Homo sapiens: one gene and its partners. The protein of the gene in region 3 interacts with the protein of the main gene of each other region in a pairwise test. Each region holds a gene or a part of one and is shown on either strand. Other genes may lie near its edges. The genes, in order: HERPUD2, TM4SF18 and CYB561A3.

Evidence for each region.
Region 1: the proteins of CYB561A3 (region 3) and HERPUD2 interact in binary tests that used the Homo sapiens proteins (3 or more experiments, as listed by UniProt).
Region 2: the proteins of CYB561A3 (region 3) and TM4SF18 interact in binary tests that used the Homo sapiens proteins (3 or more experiments, as listed by UniProt).

The regions. Positions count from the first base shown.
Region 1 is NC_000007.14:35,632,159-35,636,785, forward strand, and holds the end of HERPUD2 (homocysteine-responsive endoplasmic reticulum-resident ubiquitin-like domain member 2 protein), read right to left. Parts: intron 3,301-4,627; coding exon 2,977-3,300; intron 2,272-2,976; coding exon 2,154-2,271; intron 1,694-2,153; coding exon 1,532-1,693; 3' UTR 501-1,531; downstream 1-500. UniProt on the Homo sapiens protein: Could be involved in the unfolded protein response (UPR) pathway.
Region 2 is NC_000003.12:149,323,334-149,330,983, forward strand, and holds part of TM4SF18 (transmembrane 4 L6 family member 18), read right to left. Parts: intron 7,087-7,650; coding exon 6,997-7,086; intron 1,690-6,996; coding exon 1,547-1,689; intron 1-1,546.
Region 3 is NC_000011.10:61,358,320-61,365,896, reverse strand, and holds the start of CYB561A3 (lysosomal membrane ascorbate-dependent ferrireductase CYB561A3), read left to right. Parts: upstream 1-4,014; 5' UTR 4,015-4,164; intron 4,165-4,554; exon of another isoform or gene 4,555-6,471; intron 6,472-7,577. Other genes in the region: TMEM138 (transmembrane protein 138), read right to left, coding at 1,379-1,506. UniProt on the Homo sapiens protein: Transmembrane reductase that uses ascorbate as an electron donor in the cytoplasm and transfers electrons across membranes to reduce iron cations Fe(3+) into Fe(2+) in the lumen of the late endosome and lysosome.

The DNA of each region.
Region 1 (4,627 bases), on a different chromosome or scaffold from region 3:
ATATATAAATTATATATAAATATATACAAATTATATATATAAATATATATTATAATTATATATAATTATATAAAAATATACAAATTTTTATATAATCATATATAAATCATATATATAATCATATATATATAATCATATATAAATCATATATATAATCATATATATATAATCATATATATATATTTTTTCCCCTGGGCCACTACCACATTCATAATTTTATAATGTATTTCATGTGATATAAAGTTCTCCCACACATATTTGTTTTATTTAGCTATCCCATAAGAAACTTACTGCCTTCTCATGATACATTAAATTGGCTTTCACAGGGATTTTTAAATAAACTAATGAGGTTTCAATCTAACTAGGAGATATCCATCTGGAATGGAAAGAGGTGTAAATGACCTTTAAGACTTCAGCAACCCTTCCAAACAACTACTAAAATTTACATAAATGTTTGCATGTAATGGGTGAAGAGTTTGAACAAATATCCCATAAAACTGTTTACCATAATTGACTTTTTATTTAAAAAATTACACGGAGCAATTTCCAGCTTATCTTTTTTTATAAAAGTACTGCCTATATCAAACATTTTATATCACGTTAATTCCATTGAAGAGCTGCCTTTTTCTGTTAAGGTACTGATTCCAATTGATGGGATACATGCCCTTAATACAGAAAGTTTCCATTATTTATTCAAATATCAAAATTAAGATTATTGAGAAGTTTATTGCTTTATGGCTGGGCAAGATGCTACTAGCACATTTTAGGTAAATAATATTCTTTATTAAAAACTATGAGGTCATTCTGTTTAAAACTTTCAAGATAATTCACGGAAAACAGATATATCTATTCAAATTAAACATTAAAGGGCCAGGCTACTAGCTATAGACATTTATATGTGAAGCAGCTCTTTTTTTTTTTTTTCTGAGACCGAGTCTCACTCTGTCGCCCAGGGTGGAGTGCAGTGGCCCAATCTCAGCTCACTGCAACCTCCGCCTCCTGGGTTCAGGCAATTCTCCTGCCTGAGCCCCCCAAGTAGCTGGGATTACAGGCGCGTGACACCACACCCGGCTAATTTTTTTGTATTTTTAGTTAAGATGGGGTTTCGCCATGTTTGCCAGGCTGGTCTCGAACTCCTGACCTCAAGTAACCCACCCGCCTCGGCCTCCCAAAGTGCTGGGATTACAGACGTGAGCCATGGCGCCCGGCCAATGAAGCAGCTCTTTAAAGAAATAAGACATGAAAATAGGTCTGTCCTGGTATACTACACATAATTGAAATGAGTAACACCTGGAAGACCAATATTGTTACGCTATGTTCTGTTAGGATCTTTAAAAAAAAAAAAAAAAAACTCAGATATTTAGTAGTCCATTCGTGCTTAAAATATTCATATGCATGAGAAGCCTAAAGAAAAAAAACACCTCTGTACATGATGATCAAAAGAAAGTTATAAATTTTTTTGAAATTGCACTGTTATTTAAACCACTTTCCTGAAGTCAGACCCTCCTTGTAGCTGGCACAGTTTTTCAGGTCAATTGGCAACCTGGGGAGGCCCCTCTGGTATTAGTGAAGTAAAGAAGGTGGTGATGAAAGACCAAGCTGAAGCCATTAATCCAGGCCTTTGAATTGCACTGGCATCTTCACCTCCATCTTCTCCACTCTCATCTTCAAGCCCATCATCCATAAGACGCTCCTTTCAAGCAAAACAAGAAAGATACTCCTGAGTGATATGAACGAGCATTAGCTCATAATAGAATACAGTTAAATTCTTTGTAGAACAAAGGACTATGAAGTGGTATGTATGTGGTCATTAGAAATCTTTAAGGCCAAAATTGATAAATTCCTCACTGTTCCGTAAAGGGGACAACTGCCAATGCAATACAATAAATTCTTACCATGTGTATAATTTTATTTCTAGGCTATTTTCAAGAAAAAAAAAGTTACTTCTTCCCATTTAGTTATAATATATGACTGATTCAGTATAATATTCTAAGTTCTCCCAAATGAAACCACCACAATTTATATGTTAGTTTTCTTTCATGTGCCATTTCACAAATACTTATGGAACATCCAACATTCTTTCATCATGTTGGTCCCATACCGTGCTGGGAAAATCTCAGTATCTTAAGTATACAAAAGCTTCAATCACATACCATTTCTTCAAGTTCCAAGTTGTTTGCATTTTGCCCATCATTGTTAACTTCGGCATTATTGTTGGGAGCCTGCTGATGACCTCCTTCTTGCCTAAAAGGAAACCATCCAGCTTGGTGTCTGTTCAGTAAAATAAAGAGAAAATAAAATAAGTCACAGTTGTTTTTATTTGTAACACTATAAAATGTTATTAGTGTCCTATAAGAGAAAAATGATTAAAACTATAATAAATAAAAAGACCAAATCTCCCACTTCAGGACAGGGAACTACCCTTTTCAAAGCAACGACAGCAAAAGAAAACCAACCCAAATCTCTAAGTCTATCATGGACTCCACTGGCTCTATGTTAGTTATTAAAACATATCAGGAATCATAAATCTTTTCTGGTACTTTTCAAAATGAAATACAACTTAGATATTTGTTTGCCCCTTGGAGAGAAGGGAGCAGGGGAAAAATAGTCTACTTATGAAAAAAATCTGGCTTATACCTATAGAACTTACTATTGGTAATTCTAATGAAAGAGGATGACCTTATGCAGGAGTGCATCATACACTTGTTAAGTTCGAAATAATGGATAGAGTATGTCTCACTGAATGAACAACTTTTATAAAATACAGTAAACAAAAAATCTGCTTCTAAATAATTCTGATAAACATTCTCACTCAACAAAACCTTCCCTTGCTTTTGGCATCAAAAACATGCCAGATATCTAAAGCCCAGCATTCATATTCCTTCACTCAACATTCACAACAGACTACCCTACACCAGATTCTGTGCTGAACAGTTGCAGAAATTAAACCACAAAAAGTTAATGAACATCACTCACAAATAAACCAGTAGCATGGCTCCCATTACCATGATAAACCGACTAAAAGAAGAATAGAAGTATACAATGCTAAGGAGAATCGCAGCTCGTGAGAACGTGTACATCCAGTCTAGCCAGTCTCGATTGAAGTCTTCTTCATTTAGTACTGGACCTCCCTGTGCATTCATTTGAACATTCTCATTCATGGGTCGATTTTCTTGGGCCACTAGGTTTGGAGCTGGTGGGGGTTCTTCTCCAGGAACATGTGCCAAATTTAGAGGCTGTGAAGTAGTAGGCTGGGTTGGGTTGACATTTGATGTGGCCTGAGCTGAAACTGCAGCTTGACTGAAATAGTCACCAAAATAAATATTAAAAAGAAAAAAAAACTTTACCATACCATATTTTTTTAAACTTCTTGGGGAGCTATATGTATTTTTCATAAACCTAATATGGAATATCCCAACTCCTGCACCACATTTCTTAGGTAAGCACAAATTCCAATGGAAAAGTGGAGCCAAGGTTGATGGTAGATGTCGCACAGGAAAGGATGTTCTCTCAGCCTGCTATTGTAAGATGACAGGGGAAGGCAAAAGACGTGAGAGCAGCCATGTTAACCACTCCTCTCTCTTTCAATAAATTACCTTAACAGCTAATGAGATGTCCAAACCTTTTCATGAATGCCCCCTTTTGTTATTCTACATGGGATGAATACTCCCAAGCTCACCACCTACCTCTCCCTCAGACCCACGTTTTGAAAGGCTTGTCTAAAAATATATACTATTATTATACTGTGTGTCTACTGTCAGTGATAAATGATTTGTATTAGTATCCTAAAATCCTAAATACATCTCAGATAACAACCCTTCCACCCCAATACTGATTTGGAAGAACTCCAACTGGGGACCACTGATCCTTGTCAAGTTAGAAAGAATTGTGATTCTGAGGTTTGCTTATATAATTTGATTGCTTAAAATTTCCCAGTAAAGAATAAATTTCCTAGTAAAGTGATAATATATCTTGGATTTGCTTTAAATTATCCAACAGAAGGAAGAAAGTTGTAAAATAAGACTGACATGAATTGATAAATGTCAAAGCTGGGTGATAGGTACACATGGATTCCTTTTACTACCCTACCTTGTTATGTTTTTAAATTTTTCTACAATAAGAAGTTAATAATCAAGAGAGCACAAGAAAGTTAAATAAGTGGTTCCCAGGCTACAAAATCCTATTTAAGCCAGTATGCTAATACCTTGTACCTGTATAGGGCTTTTTAGTTTAGAAAACACTTCCTACTTCATGAATATTCTGATACACAGGTGAGTTACATTACTTTAAAGGGGAGAAACTAAGGCTCTCAAGTTAAATGATGCACATAAGAGTATATGATTTAGCAGCAAGCATAATAAGCCCCCCTTATCTTACACAGTTCTTGTGAGGTTCACAAACGAGACAAGGTGGGGTACAGCATCCAGCAGAGTACTGAGCACAAAGCAGTCACTCAAATGATAACCATTACCATGGCAACATGTAAGGTATGAACATCCTGTCTGGAGCCAAGGGCTTATGAAAGAGAGCCTTAGGATACGAGGTTCATAAAGCAGCTTAGCTTTATGGGGAAAGGTCTGGAGGAAGGACAAGGATGTAGACTTCACAGTGGGCAAGAGAATCAGTG
Region 2 (7,650 bases), on a different chromosome or scaffold from region 3:
TAAACCTATCTCATACCCCCATTTACCCCTATCTCCATCTCAGCTGCCAGGGAAATGAGTCCCTCCAGATCCCTCCTCTAGACTGTTCCTAGTACATGCTCTGCACAGATCATCTAGCAATTTAAAACAAGATGACTTGCAATGTTGCAGGAAGTCGGGGACCCCAAATGGTGGGACTGGCTGGAGCCGCGGCAGAGAAACATGAATTGTGAAGATTTCATGGACATTTATCAGTTCCCAAATAATACTTTTATAATTTCTTATGCCTGTTTTTACTCTAATCTCTTAATCCTGTTATCTTCATAAGTTGAGGATGTACACCACCTCAGGACCACTGTGATAATTGTGTTAACTGTACAAATTGATTGTAAAACATGTGGTTTGAACAATATGAAATCAGTGCACATTGAAAAAGAGCAGAATAACAGAGATTTTTAGGGAACAAGGGAAGACAACCATAAGGTCTGACTGCCTGTGGGGTTGGGCAAAAAGAGCCATATTTTTCTTCTTGCAGAGAGCCTATAAATGGATATGCAAGTAGGAGAGACCTGAGGGAGAGTCATGTTTGCTAAGAAAGGTCATGGTATATGGCACCATGTAAAAATCTTCAGAATGAAGGCAGCTACAGTCACAGAAGCAGCTCTGCCATGTAGGCCTAGATGCACATGTAAGACCTCAGATGGACATGGGCCTTGAACAATAAAGCTAATCATGGAGAGTTGAGAAGAAAATTTAACTTCCCCCAGTGAATGGTACAGACATTCCCTCATTTTACTCCATTAGAATTCTGGACCTCTTCTGTATTTCTTTCTGGGCCCTGCTACCTCCTAATCTGCATCTGGTGCTGGGAACCCAATAAGCCCAGCACAATGCCAGTGTGAGGCATTCTGAGATCCGGGATTGGGTTGTGAGACTCCTGACTGAATTACTAGCCTTCTGAGCAAGGCTACCTCTTTAGACCCTTCTCCAGTATAAGCTGCATAAGCTCTGGCTCATTCCACAAACTCCTGCACCTAATCATGTTCCTGGACCTCAGACTGTACTTTCCTGCTCATCCTGCCTTGTTCTATCTCTTTATCATCCCTCCTACTATAGCCCTGAGTGGCACCATCCAAGAGCACCATGGTTTCTCTCCTCCTCAAGCCCTTTTACACTTGTAACAGACCACATGTCCAACCTGGCCATAAAACAAAACTGAGTTCCTGGATCCACCCAGTCCATAAGCTCCAGCTGTTACCAGACCAGACCATAGTAACCACACAACTTTAATCTGAGGTATGGGAGAAACACACCTTTCATTTGGATAGCTCCATGACAACCTCAAGACATTGAATGAAAATGGCATTAAAAGACTGAAGAAAAAAATCTAAACAAAGATCTGTGCAAGAACAAATTGGTCTGGATATTAGTAAACTAACAGGGAAATTCTGCACTAAAACAGCCACATGGAACCCCAAAGTGATCATGGAAAATGAGCGTGAGCTTGAGCATGAGGCAAGGTGTTTCTGATTTTCCGACCTCCTTGGTTTGGGGAATTATTCCTTACCGTCCAGCAGTGCCTTCAAAAGCATACTCCCAGCCATCAAGGGTGCGGCAATATGGCCCTTGGACAAGACCCAAGGCAGAGATGACCAGGCAGTATCCAGAAAAAGCAATTCCGAGGGAAGAAAAGATAATTGACAGCAGTGTCTAAATTAAAACATAGAAGCAGGTTAGTACCATAGAATGCGACAAGGGGATATTGTGGATAAATTATCAGATAGCTACATTCCCCTATTCACCCAAGCTCATGCAGTCTATACAATACTAAATGCCCACATAGAAATAAAAAAAAAAGTAATCCAAACCTATTTGATCTTAAAAATAAGCTTTTAAATAACGTTTAGTTTGGCATCACATAGAGGTAACTAGGTAATTTACTAAATTTATTCTTTCCTTGTGGAATTTTGATATCAAAATAATGATCTCCTCTTATGAAAATGCAGTGAAGGATGTGATCAATCAACCCATAACTATCTATTGAAGACCTGTTATTTTCTAGGTAGAGTGGGTTCTCTAAGAATTATAAGCTATGACCTCTGCTTTCCTCTTATAAAGATATTAAAATATCTTTACAACAATATAAAGGAAAATGTCAGGTATAGTATTGAAATTTATATTCATATTCAAGTGACGATAGGATTGATGGAGAGGGGGGTGTTTTCATTTGAGTAGAGAGAATGGGTGTTATTCACAGGCAGATCAGTGCAACCAGAGTTGTGAGAAAGTAGGTTTAATCTAAGAGGGGTTTATTCAGATGAGTGAGGAGAAAGGCTCTGAAGACAGATTGACATGGTACTAATGCTGGGAAAACAAGGTTGATAGGGCACAATTCAGCCCTTGAGTAGCTTAAAAAGTGAGTACAGCTTGGTAGATCCAGGCCAGAGCTGGCCTTGAATGCCAGGTTAAGAAATCTGGACTTTATCCTTCAGGGCAAGGGACTTCCCTCCTCCCAACCTTAAAAAATGTCAAATCTACAAAAAAGTTGAAAGTATAGCACAATAAACCCCTACATATCCTTTATCTAGAATCACCTACATGAATATTTTACCATATTTGTTTGTGCTTTCTCTCTTTCTCTGTGTGTATGTGTGTATATATTCATGCAAAGTATATATGTACACCTGTACATATATACAAATATGTATTTATTATGTGTTTTTGTTACTGAGCCATTAGGTTGCAGACATTATGATATTTCACCCCTAAATATTTCAGCATACACCTCCTAAGAATAAAAACATTCTATTATTTTGTAACTTTTAAATTTTTTTTGTACAGGATCCAATAAAGGTTTATGTACAAGACTACATCTCTTTAGTTTCCTTTAATTTACACTAGTCTTTCTGCCTTTTTGTTTTTTGGGGTGTTAAACTGTTTTTAAGAATCCCTGACAGTTGTCTTGTAGATGTCTCACATTCTGGGCTTTTCTGATTATTTTCTCACAATTGAATTCAAACATTTTAGCGAGAATACTTAATGGGTGTGGTGTACATTGTGGGCCTTTCATGCTAAGGGTGGTGCTAAGTTTGATCTCTTGGTTAAGAGTATCCTTCAGATCTCTTCCCTGGATAGGTACATTTTCCTCTTGGCAATTAGTAAATAACTGCCAAGGTGATGCTTTGAGACAGTGTCATATTCTGTTTCTTAATAACATTTCAACTGATGGATTTAGCATCCACTGATGATCCTCATATTCATTGATTACCAGCAATCACTGTGGTTCCAATGTGCTGCTTTCATAATGCTATAATTTATCTGCATTTATGTTATCATTTTTCTGCACAGAACAACTTCCATTTCCCATTCCTCTCTCCTTTGCCTCTGTCTATATTTTCTGGACTCACAGATCTTCTAATTCATTGTGCTATAATCCATAAATGCGATTATTCTTTTAGATGCACAGATGGTCCAAATTCGGCCAATGTGAACATCCCTGTAGGTCAACTCCTATGCCCTTTGACATACTCATGTCATTCTTTGAACATTTTCTTGCTTTCTGGCACAAGATGTTCCAGGTTCATTTTGAGCTTACCCTGCCATAGACCTGGAAGAAGCTGGGGTTTTGTTGTTGTTGTTGTTTTGTTGTTGTTTTTGAGTTGTAGTCTCACTCTGTCACCCAGGCGGGAGTGCAGGGCCTGATCATGGCTCACTGCAACCTCCACCTCCTGGGTTCAAACGATTCTCCTGCCTCAGCCTCCTGAGTAGCTGGGACTACAGGCACGTGCCGCCACGCCTAGCTCATTTTTGTATTTTTAGTAGATATGGGGTTTCACCATGTTGGCCAGGCTGCTCTCAAACTCCTGACCTCAGGGGATCCACCTGCCTTGGCCTCCCAAAGTGCTGGGATTACAGGCATGAGCCGCTGTGTCCGGCCAGAAACTATTTTTTAAACAAGTCTTGTAATTGGTTTTTGAGCAGGAAGTGATATGCCCAAAATGTGCTTTTGGAAGATTGCTCTGGCAGTGGTCACACAAGCTGGAAGTAAGAGACCTCAAAGATAAGGATCCAGCTTGGAGACAGATGCAAGTTGAGGTGACAAAGACACACATTGGAGGAAAACACATTAAGGAGGAAATGAGTAGCTGGAGATGAAAAAAAAAAAAAAATCCAGAGCTGGGGCTTGGATAAAAAGGAGACAGAAATAAGGATACCAAGAAAGGTTATTTGGTTTGGGGGAAAAATTAGCTTTAGAAATGTTGATTGCAGGGTGAGAGTAGGCAGCAGAATAGTAACATGCAGTAACCAATTGATAATAAATTCAAAAGCTGAGACCAGAAAAAGTAAGACCAACAAACCTGTGATTTTAGGAATAAAAATCATCTCAATAACATTTCTTTGTTTAAAATTATTTCACTGAGTATGACATTAATATATCCTCTTTATGGAAAACTGGAAAAAATATTCACTGGGAAGATCAGTGAAGAATTTCTTCATTGGGGGAAACTGGCAGCCATAGCATACACACACATGCACACGCACACACTACAATCTAATGAGTGGATACCATTGCACTATCAAGGTAAGCCTCAAAATAAAGTGGGAATAAGAATTTGAATCATAGTTTTCTTTTCTGTAAACTGTAGATGATGTAGACAGGAATGGTACCTATGTGACAGGGCAATTTCAAAAATAAAATATAATAAAATATTAGCTATTATTTCAAGTGCCCTTATTTGGCCAATATTTGCTTTCCAGGAATAATTGTCCAAGAATTTTGGCAGAAAACCAGACTCCATGCAGGAATGGAGAGTGCCTTAGTTCCTGCTGCTATAATAAAAATACCTTAGACTGAGTAATTAATAACAGAATTTTATTATTCACACTTCTGGAGGCTGGAAAGTCCAAGATCACTGGCAGATTCAGTGTCTGGTGAGGGCTCATTCCTCATAAATGGCACCTTCTATGTGTCCTCGCATGGTGCAAGGGAGGTAAGAGTACTCCCCTCAACCCCTTTTATAAGGGCACCACTCTCATTCATGAGGGAAGAGCCATCATAACTTAGTCACTTCCAAAAACATCCCACCTCTTAATATCGCCACAGTGAGAATTAGGTTTCCATGTGAATTTTGGAGGAACACATTCAGGCCATAGCAGATAACAACCAAGAAATGAATCAATTTTTATTACATTTTGGAAGTTACAAACTGATGCAGATTCAGTTTTTCCCACAATATGTACTTTGTTTGGTTTAAATGAAGATTAATTGCCAATATTTTACAATTGAAAAGTTTTACATAAAAATCCATATTTTTACTTTCTACTGAAAACTGAGAATTATTGCCCTACTTGATCATGGCAACAACTGGCTGGACTTCAGTAGCAGCTCCTTCTCCTCCTTAGATGGAAATTGTGCTCTGATGCCTACCAGGCTCATTTAATTCATTTATGTCACACACGTGGCTTCTGGGGGCATTTGAATTGGGACTTCTCTTCTAGAACTTACCTTGAAAAGGCCAAAAAGGGAACCCGGAGAATCCTCTCTTTCTTTCTCCTGCTGTTCCCAATGAGATGTTAGTCATCTAATTTAATGCTGATTATAAGACCCTTTTCAGACTATTTCTAGCATCTATTTGTGCTAGAAGTGCTAATAGTGAGTTAAGGCAAATTGAACATGTGAATTTTTATTTTACACTTAATATCACATATATTTGTTTTCTAGAAATTCTCTGAGTATCATAACTTGAATCTATACCTGAATTTATTATTTCCCCTAGGCAATTTTGAAATCTCTTCCATAAGTATATTACAAGTAGCTACTGGAGGATGACTGAGTCAACTGGTCACACACACACACACACACACACACACACACACACACACACGAGTGTATTTTAAATTTTCAATTCTTCTCCATAAGGGACACAGTACTAAATAAAGCAACGAATTTAATTTTTAAAAGACATTGGTCAAAGAAAATTTGCCATACAATCTTGACTACGCATTGAAATATCCTGGGGAGATTTAAAACATATCCATGCCCAGGTTGTACCTCAGACTAACTAAATCAGGGACTCTGGGGATGGGATTTAGGCATTAGTGTTGTTCCAAGCTCCCAGGTGATTGCAATATGAAGCTAACAGGTAGAAGCACTGCTGCAAAAAATGCCTACCAGATATCATCATAAAACTCCTCCTAGCTAATAATCACTTGTTCTCTTTGAGCCACAAGTGCTTCATCTATAAAATAGGAGCAATAATGACTTAATTCACTGAGTAAATGTGAAAGAACTATAAAGTGCTATGCAAGTGTGAATAAACGATGAAGAGGAGGAAGAGGATGAGAAGGAGAATGGTAGAAATGCAGGAGCACTGGCTTAGAAAATGCGGTTGTATTATTCACCCTGATACTATTTTAATTATTTTTCAAGTGCCAACTTAGAAAATGCACATCACATACACCCAACAATATGGATGAATCTAAAAATTATTATCCTGGATGAAAAAACCCAGATAAAAAAGACAAATATTGTATGATTCCACATATATAAAATACAAACTAATCTATAATGACAAAAAGTAAATCAAAGGTTAATCTTTGGGGGTTGGCAGAAATATTCTGTTATCTTGACTGCAATGGTGGTTTCATGAGTGTAGTCAACTGTTAAAACTCATGATATTGCATAATTTTAATGGATGCCACTTATTATATGTAATTTAGCCCTCAATAAAGTTTGTAAAGAAAAAATAGACTAATGGAAACTTAGTTAGGAAAAAAAAGTATTATTTCCTAATTTTAGGTATCTTTAAATGCTGATTTTCTGAAAGTGCATCAGTAGAACAAAAGTGGAGGAAAGACTAAGCAAAATGGAAGATGATCTTGGCAGTAAACTCTTGATCTCTGTACTGTACTCAACAGTAGTGAGGGTATAATACTGTCAATATTTTTGTGTTTCTGAGTGAGAGGAAAGAAAGCTGGAGCCCACTCAACCATCCTCAAAAAAACTGTTGCTCTTACCACATATTTTTTGCTGCAGTTTTCACTCTGGCAACATTTATAGTTGTTATTATTCTCCAGTACCAGAAGAACTGTTGTTACTATAAGCATCTATAGGAGGGAAGACATAAAATGTTAGCAATGAAATGCTAGTTTACATTTGTGCTTATAATCAGAGGACAGCGTCTTCAAGCATAGAGTCTGGGGTCAGGTAGATATGGATTTGAATCCAAGCTCTGTCACTTTCTAGCTGTGTGAATTTGAGACACCTTCTGTATAAAATGGTATCAAGAGATCGTCACGAGGTAATATATGTGACATTTTGAGTATAGTGGTTGATTCATAGTGACTGATAAATGTTAGCTATTATTATCATGGTTAGCAACCATCAAAAGCTAATGATTAAGGAGAAGTAAATGGATGGACAGGAGAATACCACCCTGGGCAGCAAAACCTGCCTTTCTCAATGACTCAGTTGTGGAGAACCAAGGAAAATCATTCAGCAGGCTTGGTAGTTTGCCAGCCTCTCTTCATTTACTGTCCTCTGGGAATGGAGGTGAGAGGCTCAGTTAATCTGAAACCATATCTCTTTAAAGTGACTTCAATTTCCCCATGCATTCAAACCATCTCAGGTTTAAATTGTTTCAATGTGTTTTGTCTGTATCAAGCCAACAA
Region 3 (7,577 bases):
TGGGACCTGAATGACATGAAGCTAAAATTACCTAAAATTACCCACTGGCCCCATCAGTTGGGTTTGCAGTCCATAGTCAAGGCTTTCCTGCTCTAATACTCTTTTTTATTTTTAAAATTTCTTCCATACATAGTCCTATAGAAGATTCTCTGATACTCCTTATTTTTCGAGACAGGGTTTCATTCTGTTGCCCAGACTGGAGTGCAGTGGTATGATCACAGCTCACTGCAGCAACTTCCTGGGCTCAAGTGATCCTCCCGCCTCACCCTCCTGAGTAGCTGTGACCACAGGTGTGTGCCACTATACTCAGCTAATTAAAAAAAAAATTAGCTCATGCCTGTAATCCCAGCACTTTGGGAGGCCGAGGTGGGCAGATCACTTGAGGTCAAGAGTTTGAGACCAGCCTGGCCAACATGGCAAAACCCCGTCTCTACTAAAAATACAAAAAGTAGCTGGGTGTGGTAAATACATAGTGGGGTGTGGTAGCGCACACCTATAATCCCAGCTACTAGGGAGGCTGAGGCAGGAGAATTGCTTGAACCCAGGGGGCGGAGGTTGCAGTGAGCTGAGATTGTGCCACTGTACTCCAGCCTGGCGACACAGCTAGACTCCATCTCAAAAAAAAAAAAATAAAATTATGTTTTAATAGAAACAAGGTCTCACTATGTTGCCCAGGCTATCTGACACTCTTAAACATTTTTTTTTTTTTGAGATGGAGTCTTGTTCTGTCGCCCAGGCTGGAGTGCAGTGGCATGATCATGGCTCACTGCAACCTCTGCCTCCCAGGTTCAAGTGATTCTCCTGCCTCAGCCTCCCAAGAAGCTGGGATTACAGGCATGCACCACCACGCCCATCTAATTTTTGTATTTTTAGTAGAGATGGGGTTTCTCCATGTTGGTCAGACTGGTCCCGAATTCCCGACCTCAGGTGATCTGCCCACCTTGGCCTCCCAAAGTGTTGGGATTACAAGCGTGAACCACCACACCTGGCTTTTTTTTTTTTTTTTTGAGATAGGGTCTTTGTCACCTGGTTGGAGTGCAGTGGCATGATCATGGCTCACTGTAGCCTTGAACTCCTGGGCTTAAGCAATCCTTCCACGTCAGCATCCTGAATCACTGCGATTACAGGTGTGTGGCACCATGCCTAGCTAATTTTAAAAATTTTTAGTAGGTAGAGACAGGGTCTTGCTATGTTGCCTAGGCTGGTCCTCAAACTCCCAGCCTCAAAAGATCCTCCTGCCTTGGCTTCCCAAAGTCCTGGGATTATGGGTGTGAGCCACCGTACCCAGCCTACTAATAACTTTAAGACACTAAATCACCACTGTCAGGGCCTTTGAATTGCGTGGGTTCAGCTTTCCAGAGTGCCTTACTGCACGCACATGAAGAGCACAAGCTGGATGACAGGAGTCTTTTGGAGCAGTTCTGAGAAGGAATTGACAAAGAGGTCATAGGACAGCAGCAGGAACTGCAGAGAGAGCACCAGGCTGTAGTTACTGGTCTGGAGCATCTTCCTTCTGTTTTCTCGGGCCCCCAAGGGCACATCCCACAGTTCCCAGAAAACCGCTCCTGGCTGTCTCCCTACCACTGAGGGAGAGGCTTCTAGTTCCTTTGAATGAGAGCTGTTTCCCTTGCTCTAAGGCAAGCACCTGTTGGAGCAAAAAGATAAGCAAGGTTAGAAATGTATTAATACCATAAACATTTACTGAGGACCTACTGTGTGCCAGGTACCACTCCAGTTGCATGGGATACTTTAGTGAACAAAACCAACAACAAAAACCCCCAAGAAGTCATTTATTCTAGGACCTTCACCAGCTTTTCTCCATGCCTGGAATCTTCTCAATGCAGAGCTGTCTCTAACCAAAGGAATCTAGTAGTATTACTGAGAAGAATGACTGCCTGGTCATGTAGTAGCGGTGGTAACAAAAATGGCAGCAAATCCTTATACATTGCTTACAATGTGCCAGGGAGTGTTCTACAAGCACTAACATTATTTAAACCTCACAAGGTAGATGACATAATACATTATTACCTTCCCCATTTTACAGATGAGAAATTTGAGGCCAAGAGAGGTAAAATAATTTGTCCAAGGTCACGTCGTTAGTAAGTGGCAGAGCTAGTATTCAGATGCAGGCTGCACGGGTCCACAGTCTGTGCTCTTAACTACTGGACTAAGCTGTCTCTTACATAATTGATAGACTAGTATTTAACTAGGCAGGAAAAATGCCAGCAAAGAAGTGTGAAGTGCCCTAGGCAGAAAAAGCAGAGAGGAAACAGGGGTCTCCTGGAAAGCTTTATCTTTAGGGTTATGGTTGCAACACAGTGGCAGTTGTTTCTTTTCATCTATTCCAAGACCCACAAGTTGCTCTGGGGGTGTCCTATGACCCGCTGCTGTGCCAAATCTATAAAGAAATTTCAAAATGCTCTGGAGTGTTAGCGATTAAATTAGCATCGGTAAAATGTTTTGCAATTTATAAGCTCTTTTCATATTTCTAACCTTACGTAATCCTACAACCATCTTGAGAAGTAGCCATTACAATGTATATTATCCCCATTTTACACAGAGGCTCCGGAAGGTTAAGGCACCTCCTCCACCTCAGCTGGTGAAGTCCCACCTTATTGGACATATGTTCGCGGTTTCCTCATTCATTAAATTTTAGAGAGAGAGAGAGTGTCTCGCTCTGTCGCCAGGCTGGAGTGCAGTGGCATGATCTTGGCTCACTGCAACCTCCGCCTCTCGGGTTCAAGCGATTCTCCTGCCTCAGCCTCCCAAGTAGCTGGGACTACAGGTGCGTGCCACCACGCCTGGCTAATTTTTTGTATTTTTAGTAGAGACGGGGTTTCACCATGTTAGCCAGGATGGTCTCGATCTCCTGACCTCGTGATCCTCCCGCCTCGGCCTCCCAAAGTGCTGGGATTACAGGCGTGAGCCACTGCGCCCGGCCGCATTAAATAACACTGATAGCTACTACCTAGGTACTCACACCACGATAAACTTGTCAACCAAGATCGTTTCCTTTAATCCTCCCTACAAGTCTGCAAGGTGGGAATTATTCCTATTCTACAGGAAAGGACACAGAAGTCAGAGCTCAAGGCATTCCTCCAGGTCTCAAGTCAGCAGAACCCGGCTTCATAACTGTGACGCCAAACCCGTGCTCTTAACCACTACTCATAGGCCACCATCCAGGGCTGTTTTGAGGATCCGTTATGCAGAAACGCCCATGCCTGTCTCTACGTACGACGATCCCCTCCAGTTTAGGGCAGTGGAGACTCACAAGCTCATGAAGCTCTTTAATTCGTCCACCGCTACCTGCCGCCTTCCCTTTGTACCTAGGGCAGTATTCCTCACGCTTCCCAATCCACTTAAAAACGAGGCTTCCTTGGCAAACAACAACAAAGCATAAAACCCAAGCCCAAAACAACAGCACCAAAAATTCTGACTTCTGGTCACTTAACCCACTCCTCGTCAATCACTCTCACCTCCAAACTCCAACGTCGGTTGTCATGCGGACATCGTCCCGGCTTCCGGAAGCCGGCTTTAAATTCCGGAAGTAAATGGAGGAGGCGGGCCCCGTCTGCGCCGTGCGGCCTGCTAGTCCCCGGCTTTCTCTTCCCGCTCTATGGCCAGTCTGGCCGCCATGTTGGAGCTTTCGCTGTTCGGGGCCCGGCCTGCTCCGGGCCCTCCCAGCGTCGCCGCTAGCTGACTTAGGGCTCCCGCCCACACTGCGCACGGCCTTGCTGAGGGCCGGCTCGTAGTGGGAGGCTTCGCGTTCACCTGAACATTTCCGCCTCCTCTGGATGGGGGATGAGAGGCGGGGCTGATGCATCGCAGCAGTCCTGGACCCTGACTTCGGACTTGGAGAAGAAACGCCGAGGAGGAACGGGAGTTAGGGGGTTAGCAGCTTGGCGCGCTGGGAGCCGGCCACCCCTGGTCTCCGGACTTCACTTCCCAGGAGGCCTCGCGCGCGACTGGAAGTGCTGCGAGCCTATAAGAAGGCGAGGCGGCACCCGCCGCTCTGCTCTGGGGCGGCATTGCCAGCCGGCTGTAGGCATTCAGGGCAGTGTCTTCTGCATCTCCTAGGAACCTCGGGAGCGGCAGCTCCGGCGCCTGGTAGCGAGAGGCGGGTTCCGGAGATCCCGGCCTCACTTCGTCCCACTGTGGTTAGGGGTGAGAAGGATCCCGGGGCTGGGAGTTCAGGGACCTGGGTTCGAATGCTGGTTCCGCTGCTATCTCGCTTCGCACTGTCGCGATCCCCTTGCTCGGCCTCAATTTTCTCTTTTAGAAAGTGGGCACCTTTCTCCGCGCTCTTCCTTCCAACGCGGTGGTTATAAAGGCACGAAAGCTCTTCAGAGGACGCAGAAAGCACCTGGAGCTCCTCACCCCAATTTTCACCCATTGTTAGCTGGCACGAGCACCCAGCAGAGGAGTCAGGGATCACCCCTCGGGTGCCTGGAACGGTTCTTTGGACACCTGAGCCGGACCTAGGCACAGCCTGAAGTCGGGGTCTATAATTATTCCGGTGCTAAGGGGTAACTTGTTCACCTACCTCCTTGGCAGGAATATTGAGCCCTTCACTCCTCATGTTCCGACTTTAACAGAAGCTACCTTTGAGAATAAGGAATCCTCAGAGCTGAGAGGGAGTGGACCCGAATTCCTGTACCAGCTCGGCCACTTACCTTGGCTAAGTCATTTTCTTGTTTTGGGCCCCAGTGTCACAGTGTTTTTGATTTGTAAGATGAGGGTTTAGGGCTTGTATCCTAAATCTGGTCCTCAAGATTCTTGAAGTCCCCCAGTCCATCGGGGAGGGAGAGCAACAAACTGATTTTCTACCCCTTCATTTATTTGTAGTTCTAAATTATAAAAGTAACACTGCAAGAGTTTGGAGTAGAGCCTTTTTCTTTTTCTTTCTTTTTTTTTTTTCTGAGACAGAGTCTCACTCTGTCGCCCAGGCTGGAATGCAGTGGCACGATCTCGGCTCACTGCAACCTCCGCCTCCCGGGTTCAAGCGATTCCCCTGCCTCAGCCTCCCAAGTAGCTGGGATTACAGGCGCCCGCTACCGCGCCCGGCTAATTTTTGTATTTTTAGTAGAGACGGGGTTTCTCCATGTTGGTCAGGCTGGTCTCGAACTCCTGACCTCATGTGATCCGCCCGCCTCGGCTTCCCAAAGTGCTGGGATTACAGGCGTGAGCTACCGCGCCCAGCCTGCGTAGAGCCTTTTTCTAAGACTAAGGGCTGGATGGGAACTAGCATTTCTTACCCCTGGATGTGACCTGTTTTAGCTCAGCCGGGAGAATCCTTTTTCGCAAGAAGTTAATAATATCTTGTGACGTGAAAATTATGTGAAACTCAGACTTCAGTGTCCATAAATAAATATTACTGGAACACAGCCGTGGTGCTCATTTGTTAAGATGTTTATGTGGCTGCTCTTGCATGGGCAGAGTTGATGACATAGTTGTGACAGACCATGTGCTCTACAAAGCCTAGAATATTTACTACCTGGACCTTTACAGAAGAGCTTGCTGACTGCTCCCTTAGAATGGGGCTCTGCAAAGTGAGCACACCCTGGGATCACAGCCCAGCCTGCCCTTAGAACAAATGAGAGGATATTTTCAAGCATTTGCATTGCAGTTTTCACGGTTTTTTTGTTTTGTTTTGTTTTTGAGACAGAGTCTAGCTCTGTCGCCCAGGCTAGAGTGCAGTGGTGCGATCTCGGCTCACTTCAGCCTTCTCCTGGGCTCAAGCCATCCTCCCACCTCAGCCTCCTGAGTAGCTGAGACTACAGGTGGATGCCATCACGCCCAGCTAATTTTTTTTTTTTTTTAAGAGATGAGGGCTCACTGTTGCTCAGGCTGGTCTGGAACTCCTGGGTATTTATTTATAGACAGAGTCTATCTCTGTTGCACAGGCTGCAGTGCAGTGGCGTGATCTTGGCTCACTGCAACCTCTGCCTCCTGGGTTCAAGCAATTCTCGTGCCTCAGCTTCCCGAGTACCTTGGACTACAAGCGCATGCCACCGTGCCTGGCTAATTTTTGTATTTTTAGTAGAGACGGGATTTTGCCATGTTGGCCAGGCTGGTCTCGAACCCCTGACTTCAGGTAACCCACCTGCCTGGGCCTCCCAAAGTGCTGGGATTACAGGCATGAATCACTGTGCTGGTCCTTCACTGCATTCTTCCTTTTCTCCTGCTTTGCTCTATTTCAGGAAGTAGGAGGGCTTATCTGTGTATTGTGAGCAGGGCAATATAACTTTGCAGCTCTCTGTCAGGAAAGTGTGCCCAGGGTCTATTCTAAGTCTGTCACAGAGCAGTAAACCAGGACCTTTTCTAGGGTGTGGCTACAGATCCTTTCGGACTGCATTTACTTTTTCCTCTTACAAAGAAAAAAAAAACAGTTGTGGAAGTAGATATTGTCAGATGAGTGAGCCTGCTGATCAAGATCTCTTACATTTCACTGAGGGATGGAGAGTGTTTTAGGTGAATATCTGGTGATCTGAAACGTCCTCTGCCCTTGGAGGAATTGAGGAGGCAGTTCTGAGGCTGGGTAGCAAATCTCTGAGTTAAGTAGTTGAGTCACAAATCTTCTAGGAGGCTGGTGGCATGATTTTCTCCTGCCAGCTTCATGGAAGCTTTTTCCCTGCAGCCCTTGGACCTTCTTTTCTTTTTTTTTTTTTTTTTTGAGACAGAGTCTCACTCTGTCCCCCAGGCTGGAGAGCAGTGGCGCGATCTCGGCTCACTGCAACGTCCACCTCCAGGGTTCAAGCAATTCTCCTGCCTCAGCCTCCCTGGTAGCTGGAATTACAGGCGTGCGCCACCACACCCAGCACATTTTTGCATTTTCAGTAGAGACGTGGTTTCACCATGTTGGCCAGGCTGGTCTCAAACTCCTGACCTCAGGTGATCCATCCGCGTCGGCCTCCCAAAGTGCTGGGATTACAGGCTTGAGCCACCGAGCCTGGCTGGACCTTCCTTTCTCAGAGATTACTGCCAACTTGGGTCACCTTGTGCATCTTTACCTAAGTAGGTGGACCCCTAGCATGGGGAGAGCTGGCATGGCATGGCTGAGGGCCACTGAGAGGCCTGGGCAGGCACAAGGAACATGAGCTGCATGTTAGTAGTTAGGATGAAGTGCATGACAGCAATGACTAAGAATTCTATGTATATATATATATTTTTAGATGGAGTCTCGCTCAGTCGCCAGGCTGGAGTGCAGTGGCGTGATCGCAGCTCACTGCAACCTCCACCTCCCGGGTTCAAGCGATTTTCCTGCCTCAGCCTACCGAGTAGCTAGCTGGGACTAAAGGCGCGCGCCACCATGCCCAGCTAATTTTTTATTTTTAGTAGAGATGGGGGCGGGGGTTCACCATATTGGCCAGGATGGTCTCGATCTCTTGACCTTATGATCTGCCCGCCTCGGCCTCCCAAAGTGCTAGGATTACAGGTGTGAGCCACCTCACCCAGCCTTTTTTTTTTTTTTTTTTTGAGATGAAGTTTCGCTCTCATTGCTCAGGGTGGAGTGCAATGGCACAATCTTGGCTCATTGCAACCTCTGCCTCCCTGGTTCAAGCAATTCTCCTGCCTCA